2 separate regions of the Homo sapiens genome follow, and region 2 is linked to region 1. Evidence: fine-mapped expression QTL. A gene starts in region 1. The other region holds a variant in brackets. All regions are shown on one strand. Distances are from middle to middle. Region 1 holds the start of GCA (grancalcin). Region 2 holds the start of LOC124906148 (small nucleolar RNA U13).

The links. PIP is the estimated chance that this variant, and not a neighbour inherited with it, causes the effect.
Region 2: its variant is fine-mapped to the expression of GCA in whole blood (INTERVAL, PIP above 0.99).

What each region holds. Positions count from the first base shown.
Region 1 is chr2:162,340,512-162,350,402 of GRCh38, reverse strand. It overlaps GCA (grancalcin), which reads right to left and starts at 6,271. Exons shown (of 8, transcript NM_012198.5): 1 at 6,128-6,271; 2 at 2,661-2,825. The coding sequence starts at 6,154. RefSeq lists silencers at 5,965-6,044, 6,285-6,434 and enhancers at 6,463-6,632, 6,485-6,714.
Region 2 is chr2:161,555,307-161,565,414 of GRCh38, reverse strand. It overlaps LOC124906148 (small nucleolar RNA U13), which reads right to left and starts at 6,871; the gene lies at 6,769-6,871. The variant C/AC (reference allele first, on the strand shown) is at 5,910.

The DNA of each region.
Region 1 (9,891 bases):
GCTAGGCAGAACAGGGCTGTATGGCAACTTAGACATGTCATCAGTCTCTACATTTTTCCACATTCCCTATCTATAGGTCTTTATCTCAAGCCTGTTGTCTCAGGGTCACGAGATGGCTACTGCACCTCCATACCTCAAGTCCCCTTTCCAGGCAGGAAGAATGAAGGGGCAAAAACAGCCACAGCCAAGGCTTGCTCCCAGTAAGGCTTTTTTCATTTGGGGTAGAAAGATTTTCCAAAGATACTGCACCTACATGTCAATGGTCAGTCCTACGGCACATGGCTGCCTTTAATAGCTACAAAGGTATCTGGGATGGTGACTATTATAGTTCCCCAGCCTCTATTACATAATAAAAGGTAAAAGGGGGTTTTAAATGAAATTGGGGTAGCCAAAACAGAATGTCTGCCACGTATATTAATTCTGTGTATATTGTCTAATCCTAGAAAAGCACATTAGACCTAGTGAACACTCAAGGGAATGAATAAAATGTTATTAAAGTTCTATAAAATTCTACCTACATCAATAAATCTTTCTTGACCATTATAAAAGAAAAGAGATATGGACTACAGCTAAGACTCTAGAGTGAATTTCTGTTTCTGCCCATTAGTATGGTATTAGAACATCCATTCTGCCAGTTTCTTTGCCTTTTCCTAATCTGTTTTATCATCGAGCCTGTCCCAGAACCATCCACAATTTACAAATCTCCTCTTTGATACATTGCCCCAACTCCTTCAAGATGATTTTCATGTAGATCTCTTTTTCCAAATCCTCTCTGGCCCCCAGTCTCCATGCACCAATCCACTGTATTCCATAACCACAGAAGAGCTTTCAACTTTCCCCCCAAATTGTTAAACAAGTGAATGAAACATATCAAGAAAAAAAAACACACATCTTAAAAAGATGTTCCCAAATGTTTCATTAACACATGCAACTATCTTAGTTCATCACTCTTCTAAGAAGTTTTGTAGACAAAAACACAAATATAGCAGGTGCTGCAATACATGCTGAAGCAGCAGCAAAAAAAAAAAGACAAGCTCATTTATTTCAACAACAGGAGATAAACATCAATACACCCTCTTTTCAATCCTTTAATATATCTGGAATTCATGCTACTATATGGTACAGGCTGAAGATTTACATTTACTTTTAGATAAACTGTTAATTATTTCAGGATAGTTAATTCAGGAATCATTCTTTCCCCACTGATATGAAATGCTACCTCTACCATATACTGAATTCACAGGTAAGCTTCTGGGCTCTTCAGTATTATGTTTGTTTTTACATTAGGACCACACTATCACAATTATTAATAATACATTTATATGATATATTATAATTTAATATTTATTCTCAACAACATAGTATACAAGACAGACTTTAGAATCATTGCAGCAAGTGCCAAAAAGAAAAAAGAAAAAGAAACCTTTAGGAATTTGACTCATATAATATTATATTATTTATCAATTAATTTGGAAGACATTGGCATCTTATAATATTGTATTCCTTCCGATCTTGAATATTTACTCAATACTTCTGTCAAATACAACTAATAACTGATACAAAGGGGTATAATACATATCCTATTTGCTTAATTTTCCTTGAAATTTCACATGAAAAATATATATAAAATCACTTGGAAAAGAATAAACTGTGGTATGGTGTTACAGTTATGTAGGAGTAAAAGAAAAGCTTCCGTTGACCACAGTATTCACATATCATCAGTAACAATTCACCCACAGAATTCATGTACTTGAACTGGCAGTTTCACACGTCCCTATTGGTCATAATAAAGTCAGTCCTTTAAATAATCACTCAAATTTACTGGAAACAAATAACATCCTAAAACCATACCACATCGTAACATACTATTTCCTTTAATTTTTAATTAATAAATCCTGACATGATTATTTTGATAACCTGGAAAATTTACCAGCCATATCAAATCAAAATTACTATAAATGATATAACTTCACCTGTGAAAAAAATGTAATTTCTCAACCTGAATAAATTTACGAGACTCTGAAGTGATTTCCAATCATATTGTTTGACATACTTAGGTTTTAACTGAGTTTTTTTTAAAAAATGGGAGTGAGGCCCAAGTTAGAAATATTGTTCCTTATAATTTTTTAAAGTGCTTCCTACTTTCCTAAAATTTCCAATAGTCATTTTTGCATGCTATAAAAGAATGTGCAGGCTAAACCTACTTAGCTTTGTGTTATCTATCACTCAGGGAGAGTATGATGCTCCTAAATGTCAAACAGAGTGAAGGAAATAAAAAGATTTAAGTGACAGAAAAATTATAACTCATAAGAAGATATATCTAAGTTTTGGTGGGGTGTTTAGTGACTAGTAAGAGGAGCCCCTTGTAGAAGAATTTCAGTAACGCAAGCATACTAGGTAAGAAAGAATCAGATTTCCGCACTATGGAAAACAATGTTTCCTCTTTTAGTCAAATGAACAATGTATCAAGCATCACATCAACAGACTTTTAAAATGAAATAATTATGACTATGCTCATCTCTGATCTCAGGAAAAAAATTAGTCTAGATACATATAAAATATAAATTTCATATACATTTAAAATGATACTCTAAATAGCTGACATTTCTCTTAAACAATAATTTTAAAGACATATTTATGCAATAAATTTAGCATCTCACCTGTCCAGCAACAGCACTGAAGTAAGTATACACGGAGTCACCAGCTGAGGAATAAGTGTCTGAATATGCTGGCCCAGAGTATCCATCGAGGAGTATAGCTGGGCCTGTTTCTGGCACTGGCTGTCCCATCTGCATTCCTGGCACCTGAATGCTAAAATTTCCAAACTATAATAGTGAAAGGGGAGAAGGTTAGTAATATAAATACTACCTATTATCTATGAAAGTTGGATTAAAAGAAATTATTAGAAGTCCGTCAAAAAGTAAACAGTTACCAAAAGCTTATAATCTTATCACAAAAATTTTAACTACAAAATGTTAGATGTCCTACATTAAGACATAATTCAATTCATCAACATATATTACCCAGCATTAAAAGAAGTATAAAAGAAAAAAGAAAGTTACTAGCCTCTAAGAACTTAATCTAAGAGGAACATGTACAATTTTAAAAAATGTTTACCAACATCACTGAAGTAAACAAAAAGTAAAACAATGCAAGATTTTACCTAAAGTAAAACTAAGAAGTAAACCTCAAGACACATACTTAGAAGAATATATGTGTAAATACAATGAAACTTTAAGTGTCAACATTTACAATATGTTGGGTATTGTATTCTTTACAACTATTTAAACTTAAAATAAAAACTTTATATGTCAATATAAAATATGGGAAAAGGGTATATAGTTTTTCAAAAATCTTTTAAGGGGCGGGAAGCAAAATGTTTAAAGAAACTGCTGTGGTTCTGGTAGTATCCTGAGGGATGACATAGAGTTCTGTATGCTGGCCTCCCACTTGTTTCTTTTCAGCCTATTGTGACTTATTACAGTTTATATATGTGGGATTCTCTGATGTTACAGATTATGTGATCTAGTTTTAACTAAAGCCATAACAAAATGGCAATAGTAAAGATTCAAAAACATGCAAAGCAACATGAAAGGCTTGGACATGAAAATATTGTCTAAGCCTTTCCTTACCCACATTATGTAGTAATAATAATAATGATCAATTTTGACTCATTTGAAACTGTCAAGAGGACAACTTGAAATATAAATTTATGTAAACCGTGTTTAGGGATGAACCTTGTTGGCCAGGGGCCCCAGTTCTCCTCCACATGGGCCCTTTCACATGGCTCTTCCACTTTTTCATAGCTTGGCAGTCAGCTTCTAAGAGAGAGAAAGAGAAGCTGCCAGTCCTCTTAAAATATTGAGTCTGGAACTGCCATGGTGTCTTTTCTACTGTATTCTACCAGATGAAGGTGAAACAGGCCCAATCCAGATTGAAGAAAGTGGAGAAATAGTCTGTGCCTTTCGATAAGGGGAGTGGTAAAGAATTGGTAACCATCATTAATCTGACCACCAGGTTCTCAAATTATGGGACTGGGGAAAGCTAATGCTGCAAATTGGGAAGGGAAAACAGATTAAAAGTTATTCCTAAGGACAGATTCTTCATCTTTGAATTGATTTTGTATGCTATTTCTTGTGTGAAAATCTAATCTGTTTAAGTTTTCTGTGCTTAAAATGTTTTTTTATTATTGAAAACACTGAAGCTTGTATAATACAACATGTACAAACAAAAACATGTAACGAAGTTTTAGATTGTTTCATTTCCTGTGACCAAAGTGAGAAACAAAGAAAAAAGTCCTTTACATTGAGTTATAATTTTTATTCGTATACAATTAGTAAAAAAAAGAAAATAATACAATTTTTATAAACAATTCTTAAAAGAAGAAAGTAAAAATCTATTGGAAATGCATCTCCTACAGAGATAAATCATGCACTTAATTAGATAAAAGTATACTATCAAAACAATTAGGTCTAGCAGCTGACATTTTATATTTTGTTAAAAGAATATAAGAAACATTAATAAGGCATGGGTTTCCTTTAACAGGATTTATAAACGTCTCAACTATCTTATTAATATTCTCCTACTAAAGAAATCATGTAAGTTTTATCCCAAAATTTTATCCAATGTATCTTAAAATATTTCAATTACATTTTTTAAAATCAGTGCCTCTAATCTATATATTGCTTCAGCTATTGAGGGTACTTCTCTTTCCGGCGATTAATAATGAGCATGACAACAGCTGAAAAGAGTTGTTTATTTTAAATTCATGGAAAAGGGGATTTAAATATTCAAAACACATACAGACGTTCTCTTTATTGTGTCGTGGAACTCTCCATCAAATTCAAGCACTCTGACAAAAGTGGGTAAGGAAGCACCAAATTATTTGAATGAAAATGTATTACTCTTGCCACCTCACTCTACCATACATATATGAATTCAGAGCATACCAAGAGGAGTAAATATACAAACTTCTAACAGATAGCTTCAACCAAATGAAAATACGTATACGCTAGGGACGTTTTTAAAGACCCACAGGTTTATGCTATCTTGATTAATCTTCGAAGGGGCTTTACTTTCCTTAGGTACCTTAAACTTCCTTCCTAAATTTAAGGACTGAGGAGGCATAGGCATTACAAAGTGGACGGTGCCAGAGGGGATTGAGGCAAGTCTTAAGGAAAGCAAATCAATTTTAGGAACAAGTATGTGTGGAAGTTGAGGACCTGGAAATTCATATCCTAAAACAACAACAACAACCACAACCACAACCACCACCACCACCACCACCACCACCACCACCACCACCACCATGAACTCCAAGGGGTAGGAGTAACTCTTTTGAAGACCACAACCATAGCCCAAAGTCAAGTCCTATATTAAAATCAGTAAAACACAATTTCTCTTTTTAGGTAAAAAACAAATAGAAAATATATTATATTCTACCCACACCGCAATGGATCAAACTACTGTTAACTCTGTTAACACAGCGTGTAGATCACTGACATCGATACTAAAGGTTTGGGCTCCTTTCTGAAAAGAAGGGGCTAGCCACCAGGACTCTACGATTATAACTTGCAACTCCCAAAGGTGATGCAGGATAAAAGTTATAACAAAGAGTAACTTCCCCCCGCCTGGGGGCGAGCGGGGGAGTCTAGAACAGATTGCCCTTCGTATAACAGTAAAGATTAGGAGTTATTTACCGTACACCTTAATTTATTCATAAGGAACTTAAAGAACAAGAAGTGGTCAGGAAATTCAAAAAGAGGATCTCTAGCAACACTGAGTGGGGGGCGGGGGAGGGAAGTACCACAAACGATTACTGGAACAAGAAGAGGGTGGCTTGTTCCTCCATTCCAGGAAATAAATTTCCAAACACACATTACTCCCTCGGCTCCACCAGGACGCTCCTCGAGGGTCCTCAACGACCAGAAAACCTGCGGCTCCAAGTCAGCCCAGGATCAATGCTCGCCCAGGCCCTGGCCCCCAACAGCCCCGGAATCCGGCGCCGCCGAGTACCAGGCGCGGACGCAGGGAGCAGGAGCCAAGGGCGGACCCGCACGTTGGCACCGCCCCCGGGGGCGCCACACCCCGCGAGGAAGAGGGACACGACCAAGCGGCTGGGACTCACCCCTCCTCCGTATCCCGGGTAGGCCATGACGAGCGGGACGAGCGGAGCGAGCGTCACCCTCGAGTCGCGTCCGCAGTGCTGGGAGAAAAAGCACAGGCGCAGGTGCAAGGAGGCGCAGCTGCAGGTGAGGCTGAAAGGCGCACTAACCGCACAGTTCACTCCTCCGAACCCGCCCCCTTCCGCAGGCCAGCCCCGCCCTGCACGGTTCCGATTGGCTGAGTCCCACACTTTGGAGCCAACTCAGCTGCAGTCCGCCCCTTCCCGCAGCCTAGCCCCACCCATCTCTGCCCTGATTGGCTACACCCCATCGGGAGCCCTCCAGTCCCTGCTCGACTCTTACTGGCTCCCTCAGGTTCTCGCGCGCTCTCCTTCTAAATCCCGAAGAAGCCTTGGCTGCTGCAACGGAATTCCCACTCTCTGTGGAAAGGTCTTCTACAAGCCTTCAACTCCTCAAGTTACTTTTCTTTCTAGAAACCCCAAACCGGCAAGTCTGTGACTTATTTTAACCAGCCCTCCACGCTTTTGAGCTGGACTTCAAAGACCCATCTGTGAATTTCAAAATTTTGCAGTTACATTTACTTTTGTGTAGTGTTGATGTCACATCAAAACTTTGCAACCAGGACCACACCTGTGGTCCAGGAGGAGTGCTTCTGCGCCAAAACCCACTTGAGGCCACATTGGACGAACAGGTTATTGATTCTGTTTGGTAGATAAATGGTGACCTGAATTGTGGCATGTTGGCAAATAAACAGGATATCTAGTTAAAGTTGATTTCCAAATAAACTTTTTTAGTGTAAGTATGTCCCAAATATTGCACAGGACGTGAACATACACTAAAAACTTATTTGCTGTTTATACACTGATAATATAGACGGTGTCCTGTATATAATCTGACTCAGCCTTTGGGCAAACTCTTGTTAAATGTTCAATTACTTTGGCTTATTAAGTAATAGCAATGGACAAGTCTGATTTATCTCTGGAACTCAAATGAATTTTGTAGCTCTGACTTTAAAAGGACAAGGCAGCTGTAGCTTTGGCTTATGAACAAATGAAAAAACCAAATGATATTATTTTGAGTTATCTCTGAAGAACAAGAGAAGGGCTAACATGTTTCTTAAAAATAAGGCTATCAAAAAAATGTTAACTATTCACAAAGGAAATCAGCCTTGCAGAGCTGAGTATCTGTTGTTCAGCTATGCTACAGAAGAGGATGTTGGACCTTGTGAAACAATTCTCAGAGGAAACAGCAGAGAGAAAGGAAGATTGCCGATGTCCTAGCTACTCTTGGGAAAGTGTCTGTAAGTTCCTTCAATGCTGTAAGAAATACTTAAGCCACTAAGGTTAAATTATTGGCATAAATAAATAGAGGGGAAGGGTAAAACCTACGTGGCAAAAGGGAAAAATGCATGGCTTATGAAGGTATCAAATGATAAAGCGCTAGAAAGAACAAACCATTGCAAAATTTTATTCCAACGGATTAACTACATATTCAAAGAACTGCTTAGGAAGGATTGAGTGTTTACATTTACAATGTTAGTCTGATTCTGTGGTCAAAATTTTTGTGCATCTTGTTTTCATCAAAATAGCCTTATTGATGCAGCTGCATTTGTGCAGTTGGGAGTTAAGGCCCCATGGGTTTCTTGCCTTTCTGCACATTTAATTGCAAAGATAGTATTTCCTGCCAGGGCAAAGTTTGGGTACGTTTGCTAGCAGCCTTCTTAGGACTTTCCTAAGCTTGGAGTTCTTCCAGTTGCATAACAAACACAGTGCATGTACAACACCCATCTGGCAGCTCCTCTTCGCCTTGTGGGACTTCAGAACGAGGGGAATCTATGGAAGTATGAAGCTCATGGTGCCTGTTGTGCTTTGAGTAATAAAGTTATTTGTCTCAGACTCAGGAATCTCACACATTCTGCCAACTTCCATGAAACTGTGGCACTCTACTTGTTTGCTTATAACTAGGGTAAAATATCAGATCCTTCATAGTTCCTGCCAATATATCTCTTAACTTAGAGAAAGGGCTACCAAAGAAAGTTCCTACCATGAAGATGCAGAGGAGGACTTTGAACAACACAGCATCTCTCTCTCTAAAACTAGTGTTTCAAATTTTAAATATTCTAGTATAAAAATTCAAATAAGGCCATAGAGTTTTTTTTAAATAACAGTAATGTTAATTTGCCTCCATGAGTCAAGTTAATACTGTATGAACAATAGCATTTTATGAAAATGTCATGTCTATTTAAAAAATTTGCTTTTTAAATATTTTTCTTTTAATAAAATCCTTCTTTACTTTATAAAAATAGTTATAGAGTGAATACGACGTACTAGGCATTGTGTGTTGTGAAGTGTTATTTCTCAAAACAACTCCATCAGGTATATGTTATTATTCCCACTTTACAAATGTGAAAAGTAAGGTGGATAATTGTATTTCACTACCCACAAATGCAGTTGCATAGTGACTAGCAAATCTGAGAGTATGGCTGCAGAATGTGGTTTCTTAAACATTGTATGTCCCCTTTTCTCTCCATCCCCAACCATAGTGCTGTATTTCAGAATATAATAAAATTGTTTACACCATAAAAGAAAAAAGGCTTTAAAAGTTTTTAAATGGCAGTAGAAAATATAACTAGAGAAATAGCCAAGGAAACACATTGTTTTGACCAAGATTAGCCAATTTAATTACTTCTCTTACACAGGGTACATCCTTTCTGGTGACTATAAAGCTTACAGGATTATGTCTAACTATGGAATTTCTTCTGAATCTTGGTGGCATTGGTCTTATCATAAGTTTAGATATTCAATTAACCAGCACATTTACCAGTAAAATGTAAACAATAAATTAACTGCAGTTCTTTTTCCTATCTGTTGCCACCTCATTTTCTCTTTCCCACTATATGAATGAGGGAGAGAAAAGAGTCACAGCTCCTCAGCAAATTTCAATCACAAACCCAGAGCCTACTTGCCTCATATAAATCATATATATATATATATATATATATATATATATAAAATAAATAAGACATACCAGCTAATGGAAACCAACATTAATGGAGTTTATTTTATATCACTAAGAAATTTCATTTAGATAGAACAATTCATTTACTCAATAATTATTTATTGAGCATGTATAATGTAACACTATTTTAGATGTGGAAAACATACATCAATAGGAGGGGAGGAATGTCCTTGCTTTTTTGGAGCTTACATTCTAGCAGGGAGAACAGACAATAGTAAGTAAAAATGATGAGTAAGTAAATTATAAACCATGTGAGAAGATGATAAATGCTATTGAAAAATAAGGAAACCTAAGTCAAGGTTAAGGGGTAGGGAGATGACAGAGTAGGTTGTAGCTCTAAATGGAGTACTTGGGTAGCTTTATTGAAAAGGCAAGATTTGAGCAAAAACTTAGAGGTCATGAATGAGTTAGACATTCTGGAGGTATCTGTAGGAAGACATTTCCATGAAGAACTAGAGTTAAGGTCCTAAAGCAAAACCCTGCCTGACCTATTTGAAGAATAACAAGGAGGCCAGTGAGCCTGGAATAGATTGAGCAAGAGGGAGAGTAGTGGAAGTGGTTGCAGAAGCGGGGACATTGGAGCAGATCATGCAGGGCTTCACAGACCATTTTAAGTACTTGCTTTTATACTCTGGTTGTGATACGGAGCCACCGAAGAGTTTGAAATCTAAGTGGGACATGATACGATTTAGGAAGGCTCACTCTTTCAGCTGTTGACAACAGACAGAAGGAGGTTAGTGTAGAAACA
Region 2 (10,108 bases), 790 kb after region 1:
AGCAGATCCAAATAAAAAAGAATGCCTCAAAATGCCAGATAAATAAACCAAAATATTGATTTTAACAAAGCTCAATGAGGTGCAAGAGAAATATGAAAAACAGTACAAAAAAGTTCAGAATATGGATGAGAAATTTACCAAGGAAATAGATATCTTTTAAAAAAATGCAGATATTGTGGATGTAAAAAATTCATTGAAGAAAATACAAAATACATTTGAAAGCTTCAATAATAGACTAGATCAAGCAGAAGAAAAAAATCTCAGAACTTGAAAACAAATCTTTTTCTTTCCTTCAATTTTTATTTTACGTTCCAGGGTACCAATGCAGGATGTGCAGTCTGTTACATAGGTAAATGTGTGCCATGGTGGTTTGCTGCACAGATCAACCTATAACCTAGGTATTAAGCCCAGCATCCATTAGCTATTCTTCCTGATGCTCTCTCCTCCCACCCCTTACCCTCTGAGAGGCCTCAGTGTGTGTTGTTCCTCCCCATGTGTCCATGTGTTGTTATCATTCAGCTCCCACTTATAAGTGAGAACATGTGGTATTTGATTTTCTGTTCCTGTATTAGTTTGCTGAGGATAATGGCTTCCAGCCATATCCCTGCAGAGGACATGATCTCATTTCTTTTTTATGGCTGCATAGTATTCCATGGTGTATATGTGCCACATTTTCTTTGTTTAGTCTATTATTGATGAGCATGTGGGTTGATTCCATATATTTGCATTGTGAATAGTGCTGCAATGAGCACATGCATGCATTTATCTTTATAATAGAATGATTTATATTCCTTTGGGTATATATCCAGTATTGGGATTGCTGGATCAAATGTTATTTCTGCTTCTAGATCTTCCACAATAACTTACATTCCCACCAACAGTGAAAAAGTGTTCCTTTTTCTCCACAGCCTCACCAGCATCTGCGCTTTCTTGACTTTTTAATAATCACCATTCTGACTGGCATGAGATGGTATCTCATTGTGGGTTTGATTTGCATTTCTCTAATCATCAGTGATGTTGAGCTTTTTAAAATATATTTGTTGGCCACATGAATGTCATCTCTTGAGAAGTGTCTGTTCATGTCCTTTGCCCACTTTTTAATGGGGTTGTTTGTTTTTTTCTTGTAAATTTGAAAACAGGTCTTTTGAAATATTCCAGTCAGACAAAAATAAGGAAAAAACTAAATAAAAGAATTAAAAAAGGCTTTGAGACATCTGGGACTACACAAAGTGACCAAACTTATGTATTATCATTATTCCCAAGGGAGCAGAGAGATCAAATTTAGAAAACCTACTTTAGAAAATAATCAGTGAAAAATTTCCAAGTCTATCAAGAAAGTTGACATCCAAATAGAGAAGGTCCAGCCATCCCTAGGCAAATACATTACAAAAAGGACTTCCCATAGCATATTATATTAAGAATGTCTAAAGTCAAAGTGAAACAAAGAATTTTTAAACTGACTAGAGAAGAGCACCTAGTCATCTATTAAAAAAAAAAAAAAAACAACTCTCATCAGACTAACAGTGGACTTTTCTGAAGAAACCTTACAGGCCAGAAAAACATTAAGTGGCATTTCAAAGTCATTTTAAAAAACTGCCAAAAGAAATCCCAGGACCAGATAAATTTGCAGCCAAATTCTACCAAACATACAAAGAAAAACAAAGATGAATTCTCCCAAAACTATGCCAAAAAATTGAAGAGAAGGGAATTCTCCCTCACTCATTCCATAAGGCCAGGATCACCCTGATACCAAAAGCAGACAAGGACACAACAAAAAAAGAAAAGTACAGACCCATATCCCTGATTAATATAGATTCAAAAATCTTCAACAAAATACAAGCAAGTTGAATACAACGGCATATCAAAAAGATAATACACCATGATCAAGAGTGATTTATACCAGGAATGCAAAGATGGTTCAACATTCCCAAATCAATAAATGTGATACATTACATAAACAGAATTAAGAACAACAACCATATGATCATCTCTATTAAAGTGGAAAAAGCAATTGATAAAATTCAATGCCCTTTCATCATAAAAATCCTCAACAAACTAGGCATAGAACAAAACATACTTCAACATAATAAAGGCAACATATGACAAACCTATAGCCAACAACATACTTAACAGGAAAAGTTTGAAAGCATTCCCTCTAAGAACTGGAATGAGACAAGTATGCCTACTTTCACTACTTTTATTTAACATAGCACTGGAAGTCCTCACCAGCACAATCAAGCAAGAGCAAAAAAATAAAGGGCATCCAAATTAGAAAAGAGGAAGTTAAATTGTCCCTGTTTGCTAATGATATTATCTTATATCCAGAAAACCCTACAGAGTCCACCAAAAAACTCTTAGATTTGATAAATGAATTCAGTAGTTTCAGGATAAAAAATTAACATACAAAAATCAGTACTGTTTCTATACAGCAATAATAATCTAGCTGAGGACCAAATCAAGAAGGCAATTCCACTTACAATGCTATAAAAAATAAAATAAAATACCAGGCATATATTTAATCAAGGAGGTAAAAAATCCCTATAAGGAAACAACAAATTACTGTTATAAAAAGTCATAGATGACACAAACAGAAAAACATACCATGCTTCCAACCCTTGGTCATGATTTGGAAAAATCAATATTGTTAAAATGACATACTGCCTGTATTAGTCTTTTTTCACACTGCTGATAAAGACATACCCGAAACTGGGCAATTTACAAAAGAAAGAGGTTTATTAGACTTACCGTTCCACATGGCTGGGGAGGCCTCACAATCATGGCAGAAGGCAAGGAGGAGCAAGTCACATCTTATGTGGATGGCAGCAGGCAAAAAAAAAAGAGAGAGCCTGTGCAGAGAAACTCCCGTTTTTAAAACCATCAGGTCTCATAAGACCATTCACTATCATGAGAACAGCACAGGAAAAACCCACCCCATGATTTAATCAACTCCCACCTGGTCCCTCCCACAACATGTGGGGATTATGGAATCTCCAAGATGAGACTTGGGTGGGGACACAGAGCCAAACCATACTATTCCATCCCTGCCCCTTCCCAAATCTCATATCTTCATATTTCAAAACCAATCATGCCTTCCCAACAGTCCCCCAAGTCTCAACTCATTTCAGCATTAACTCAAAAGTCCACAGTCCAAAGTCTCATTAGACAAGACAAATCCTGTCCACCTATGAGTCTGTAAAATGTAAAGCAAGCTAGTTACTTCCTAGATACAATACGGGTACACACATTGGGTAAATACAGCCATTCCAAATGGGAGAAATTGGCCAAAACTAAGGGGCTACAGGGCCCATGCAAGTTTGAAATCCAGTGGGGCAGTCAAATCTTAAAGCTCCAAAGTGATCTCCCTTGATTCCGTGCCTCACATCCAGGTCATGCTGATGCAAGAGGTAGGTTCCCCTAGTCTTGGGCAGTTTCACCCCTGTGGCTTTGCAGGGTACAGCCTCTCTCCCAGTTGCCTTCACGGGATGGCGTTGAGTGTCTGTGGCTTTTCCAGGTACATGGCGCAAGCTGTCAGTGGATCTACGATTCTGGGGTCTGGAGGACAGTGGCCCTCTTCTCACGGCTCCCTAGGCAGTGCCCCAGGAGGGACTCTGTATGGGGGCTCCCACCCCACGTTTTCCTTCTGCACTGCCCTACCAGAGTTTCTTCATGAGGACCCCACCCCAGGAGCAAACTTCTGCCTGGGCATCCAGGAGTTTCCATACATTTTCTGAAATCTAGGTGGAAGTTCCCAAACCCCAATTCTTGACTTCTGTGCATTCACAGGCTTAACATCATGTGGAAGCTGCCAAGGCTTGAGGCTTGCACCCTCTGAAGCTACAGCCTGAGCTCTATATTTGTCCCTTTCAGCCATGGCTGGAGTAGCTAGGATATAGGGCACCAAGTCCCTAGGCTGCACACAGTGCAGGGACCCTGGGCTTGGCCCAAGAAACCACATTTTCCTCCTAGGCCTCCAGGCCTTTGATGGGAAGGGCTGCCATGAAGACATCTGACATGCCCTGGAGACATTTTCCCCATTGTCTTGGGAATTAACATTCAGTTCCTTGTTACTTATACAAATTTCTGCAACTGGCTTGGATTCCTCCTCAGAAATGGGATTTTCTTTTCTATCTCATTGTCAGGTTGCAAATTTTCCAAACTTCTATGCTCTGCTTCCTTTATAAAACTGAATGCCTTTAACAGCACCCAAGTCACCCTTTGAATGCTTTGCTGCTTAGAAATTTCTTCTGCCAGATACTCTAAACCATCTCTCTCAAGTTCCAAGTTCCACAAATCTCTAGGACAGGGACAAAATGCCACCAGTCTGTTTCCTAAAACATAACAAGAGTTACCTTTGCTCCAGTTCCCAACAAGTTCCTCATCTCCATCTGAGACTACCTCAGCCTGGACCTTATTGTTCATATCACTATCAGAATTTTTGTCAAAGCCATTCAACCTGTCTTAGGAAGTTCCAAACTTTCCCACATTTTTCTGCCTCCTTTTGAGCCCTCCAATCTGTTCTAACCTCTGCCTATTACCCAGCTGCAAAGCCATTTCCACATTTTCAGGTATCTTTTCAGCAGCACTCCACTGCCAGTACCAATTTACTATATTAGTCCATTTTCACGCTGCTGATAAAAACATACCCAAGACTCGGCAATTTACAAAAGAAAGAGGTTAATTGGACTTACAGTTCCACATGGCTGAGGAGGCCTCACAATTATGGCGGAAGGCAAGGAGGAGCAAGTCACATTTTACGTGGAGGGCAGCAGGCAAAAAAGAGAACTTGTGCAGAGAAACTCCTGTTTTTAAAACCATCAGATTTCATGAGACCCATTCACCATCGCAAGAACAGCATGGGAAAGACCCACCCCCATGATTCAATCATCTCCCACCTGGTCCCTCCCACAACATGTGGGAATTATGAGACCTCCAAGATGAAATTTGGGTGGGGGCACAGAGCCAAACCATATCATCGCCCAAGGTTATTTATAGATTCAATGAAATCTCTATCAAATTACCAACATTATTTTTCACAGAATTAGAAAAAACAATCCTAAAATTCACATGAAACCAAAAAAGTGCCCAAATAGCCAAATCCTAAGCAAAAAGAACAAAGCTGGAAAAATCATAGTACCTGACTTCAAATAATACTACACAGCCATAATAACAAAAACAGCATGGTACTGGTCTAAAAATAGACACATAGGTCAATGAAACAGAATAGAGAACCCAGAAATAAATCAATGAGCCTACAACCAACTTATCTTCTACAAAGTAATATATATATATATATACACATACTCAGGAAAGGAAACCCTTTTCAATATATGATGCTGGGAAAATTGGATAGTCATATGCAGAAGAATAAAACTGGACTCATACTTCTTACCATATACAAAAATTAATTCAAGATAAATTAAGGAACTAAATGTATCACCTGTAAGTATAAAAATCCTACAGGAAAACCTAGGAAAAACTTTTCTGGACATTGGCCTATTCAAAGAATTTGTTATCAAGTCTTCAAAATCCAAAGTAAAAAACAAAAATTGACAAATGAGACTTAATTAAACCAAAAATCTTCTGCACAGCAAAAGAAACTATCAACAGAATAAACACAAAACCTACAGAATTGGAAAACATATTTGCAAACTATGCATCCAACAAGGGCTAATATCCAGAATCTATGAGAAACTCAAACAGCTCAACAAGAAAAAAACCAAATAACTTTACTAAAAAGTGAGCAAAGGACATGAACAAATATTTTTCAAAAGAAGACATACAAGTTGCCAACAGACATATGAAAAAGTGCTTAAAATCACTAATCAGAGAAATGCAAATAAAAACCACAATGAATTACCATCTCATACCAGTCAGAATGACTATTAAAAAAAGTCAAAAAAAAAAAAAAA[C/AC]CCAAAACAGATGTTGGCAAGGTTGTAGAAAAAAAAAAGGGAATGCTTATACACTGTTGGTGGGACTATAAGGTAGTAAAACCTTTATGGGAAACAGTATGAAGAATTCTCAAAGAACTGAAAATGGAATCACAATTCAATCCAGCAATCCCATTACTGGGTATATATCCAATGGAAAGAACTCATTATATCAAAAAGATACCTGCACTTCTTTCAGAATGATTCACAATCGCAAAGATACAGAATCATCCTAAGTGTCTATCAATGGAGGACTGAATAAAGAAAATGTGGTGTATGTGTGTGTGTGTGTGTGTGTGTGTATATATATATATATATATATATATATATATGAACACTACTCAGCCATAAAAAAGAAGGAAATCATGTCTTTTTTGGCAACATGGATGCAACTAGAGGCCAGAATCCTAACTGAAATAACTCAAAAACAGAAAGTTAAATACCACATGTTCTCACTTATAAGTGAGAGCGAAACAATGGGGACACATGGACATACAGAGTAAAATAACAGACATTGCAGACTACAAAAGGTGGGAGGCCGGGAGCAGGGATGAGGGCTGAAAAATTACCTATTGGGTAGAATGTTCACTGTCTGGGTGATGGGGACACTAAAAGCCCAGACTTCACCACTATGCAATATATGCATGTAAGAAATCTGCAGTTGTACCCTCTAAATTTATAAAAAATTTAAAATAAATAAATAAAACAAAAATAATTAAAAGAAATTTAAGACAAAAGAGATACATGATAAGGTCAAGGTTAAATACAGAGTTAGTAGTGAAACAAGGCCTAATGTCCTATTTCTCAATACAATACTTTTCTTGGTTTTTCCTTTCTTTCATGTCAGATGGGTAATGTGCTGACCTCATAATAAGGTTGAGGGTGGCACATTTCACACATGTGTGTGAACACCCAATCATCATGCTCATGAACTACAAAAGGGTCTACAACATTCTTTTTATCATATTACTTTGTTTTACACATTCTCAAACGAAGAGACAGTCTCCTTCATAGTCTGTCTAAATGCATTATTATTTAAAGAATCTGTATACCATCTGAAGCTGAATACCATCTGAAGCTGAATTCCAACTACACGGTCTCTGGAACAGAATGGCTTCTTTTATACAGGATGGCTGATCTCCAAACCCATATCTCAAAGCTATCAAGAGCAAAAAGAAACATCAATAGTCTGGAAACTATCCCACCTGGGCAAACACAAATTAAAGCCCCACAAGCAGGGGGGGTTCTCCTTGTCCCCAAGGGACTAGAAAGGAATTTCACTTTGCCTCATCCCTCTAGCTCTATTCCAACATTCTGGCACCTACAAACATTAAATATTTAATGAGCACCTATTATATGCTGGGCACTGTGCTACATGCTAGACAGTGAATAAGATATACAACCTCAATCCTCAAGGAGGTTGTCATCTGTGAGAGATGACAATTACAGGCAATTACAGTACAGTACATGAAGGGTTAAGAGTAAATCCATATTACCCTGAGACCACAGGCATCATCCCCTACTGACCAGGGAGAGAGGATTCAAATGGGAGGGGATTTGAGAGAAGGAGTGGGAGTTCAATATAACCAGTGAGTGGAGAATTAAGCTATTAAATCACTCAATTCACTCAACTGGGAAAGTATCTAAACGAAATAATTGTTTTGGATGTTTTAAGTGATACATGATTTACTTCCAGGCTTTGGTAAATGCTTCCATAAACCTCATAATCACACTATAACTTATCTGTTTTGTAAAGTCAGCTTTTTATACACTGAATTTACTTGAAAGAGACTTCTTGCTATACTTGTAAAAGACTACTGTATCACCTCCCTCTTCCCACTCTCTAATTAAGTTGTCAAAAAATGTTTTTCATTGTATTTGTTTTGGTTCTTAAAAAACCAATATGTAAGTCAAACAACATAGTTTACATATATTTCCATAACTGTCTTGCCATATTTTGTCACACCCACTAATCAGATATTTTCCACTCATCTCTCTGTTGTATGTGAAGCTGGCAGAAGACAATATTCTAAATTGCTTTCCAACCGCAGCACCTCAAGAGACTTAAAAACACATTAACCTCAGGCAAGATAACATGCTTTCATTTTGCAAGAAAATAAAACACTAATTATTGTCACAAAGCCTTCCTTAAAGGTCAAAAATAAATCCATAAGTGCAATAAAATTGAGGGAAAACTTAACCTAAACCTTAAAGGAATAAAGTCTTGATCTTGGAGTAAATATTTTTAAAACCTCACTATAATTTTACTTCTTGTGTGCCATAGTACCAAAACAAAGGAATTAATTGGGACACATTAATCTTGTGTTTGTTTGTTTTGTTTTGTTTCAGTCTCACAAGTATCCATGTAACTTACTTGTCTCACTTAAGTTACTTGTTCATATTTTGGGTCAATAGATATCTGCTTAGAAGAAAGCATGCACTTTGAACAGTGCTATTAATAATATCTCCACTGTATTGTTACATATTTTTTCTAGTGAACTGAAATCAACAGCAAAAATGCCCCATTTATTTCAGTAGGACTGAAGAAAATTTAAAAATTTATGTAGTAAAAACAATATGTGTGAGCCACCTGTTTGCTTTTTAACTAAATGGATTGGTATGGAATGACAGCTGCTGCAAAACCAACACACTTCAAATACTGTATATTACTTTGCCAAGAAGACTAAATTTTGGTATCATTTACTTTATTACCATGGGATGTGTTAATGGAGATTCTTACGGAAGAGCACTGTAATGAATATTTCTACCCACTAAGTGTCACTGTTCATTTAAATTTTTTTAAACTATGCTGATGGGCATGGTGACTCAGTAGAATCTTTTGAATGGGGTCAATCAGAAAAAAATAAAAATGATTCGATTACATAACACACTTAAAGCAAAGCACAGGCACTACATGAATGTAAACTGCTTAAGAGGAATTCCTAGAGATAGAGGTGTTGCTCTCAGTGGAATGCCAACTGATCAAATCAGACATTTTGCAAGCTTAAATAAGGTTTGAGTTACACTAAGCCTTGTAATCTGTTTTTACCAATATAAATGCCAAAACTGAATTGCCACTATAAAGTCTGCCAAGTTTCTTTGTATTGTATGTCAGTATGCTGTTTTCCTTCATAGTGCCATCAATAAACATGTCTGGGGATCAACTGCTTGTGATCAGATATGCTACTTTCATTGTTTCAAGCTGAGCTGATACTGCATGAAATACCAGTGCCAGAGAGGTTCCATTCAGGCTTGAACATTTGAGGGAGGAAGTAAGGCAGGCTTCCCTCTACCCTGCATACAAAAATTTAGGTAAATGTAAGAATATCCCTGGTGCTCACAAGATACAGACATCATTTCCTAGACACGCATAAATTTTAGACAACAGCATAATGCTCCACCCCTTGCAGGTTCTTGTTAAATAATTCAAGAGATACATACTCAGAGTTTTAGAGAGTAAGATTTTTAGCCATACTACTCACCATATGTAATGGTCTTGTTATCTCAAGATAGCAATATCATCACATATTTTTCTGGTTATGCCACTGCACTATTACAGGATAAAAATGTATATTGTTGCAAGAGTTCCACTTCAACTAAAGGACCCATTCCATTTTCTTCCCCGAAATAAAGAACGTACACCTAGAATTGCTCAAATCTCTATCTCTTCTTGCAAGACAGAGTGCATCCATTTTGAAATAACAGTTGTTGTAGCTTCTACTGTTCCCATCAAAGTGGGTGTGTTTGGGGGTCTTTTTGGTTTGGTTTGGTTTTTGTTCTGTTTGTCCAATCTGGAGCATTTTATCTCAGGCAATCTTTTATAATTACAATACAAGACAGCAAAATAAATGATGGTAAAAGTTAACATAAAAAATAAGTACTTTAAATATTCAGAGCTGAGAGAAGTAAGTTTGTACACGGCAGGAATGGGCAAGTAAAACTTTATAAAAACAGTATGTTCTTGAAAAGTACACCTTAATAAGTAGATAGAATTTCCTGAGACCTAAAAGTGGAGAAAGGGCATTCCATGTAGATGAAATAGTGTAGCAAACATGTTGAAGTAGCATATTTTAAAGACAGTGAGCAAGGATTTCACATTAGAAAGTAGTAGGTACAAGGATTAAAAGAACTTTTGGAACCAGGCCAGAATAAAAAATTAATATTAGTTTTAACTCATTCAA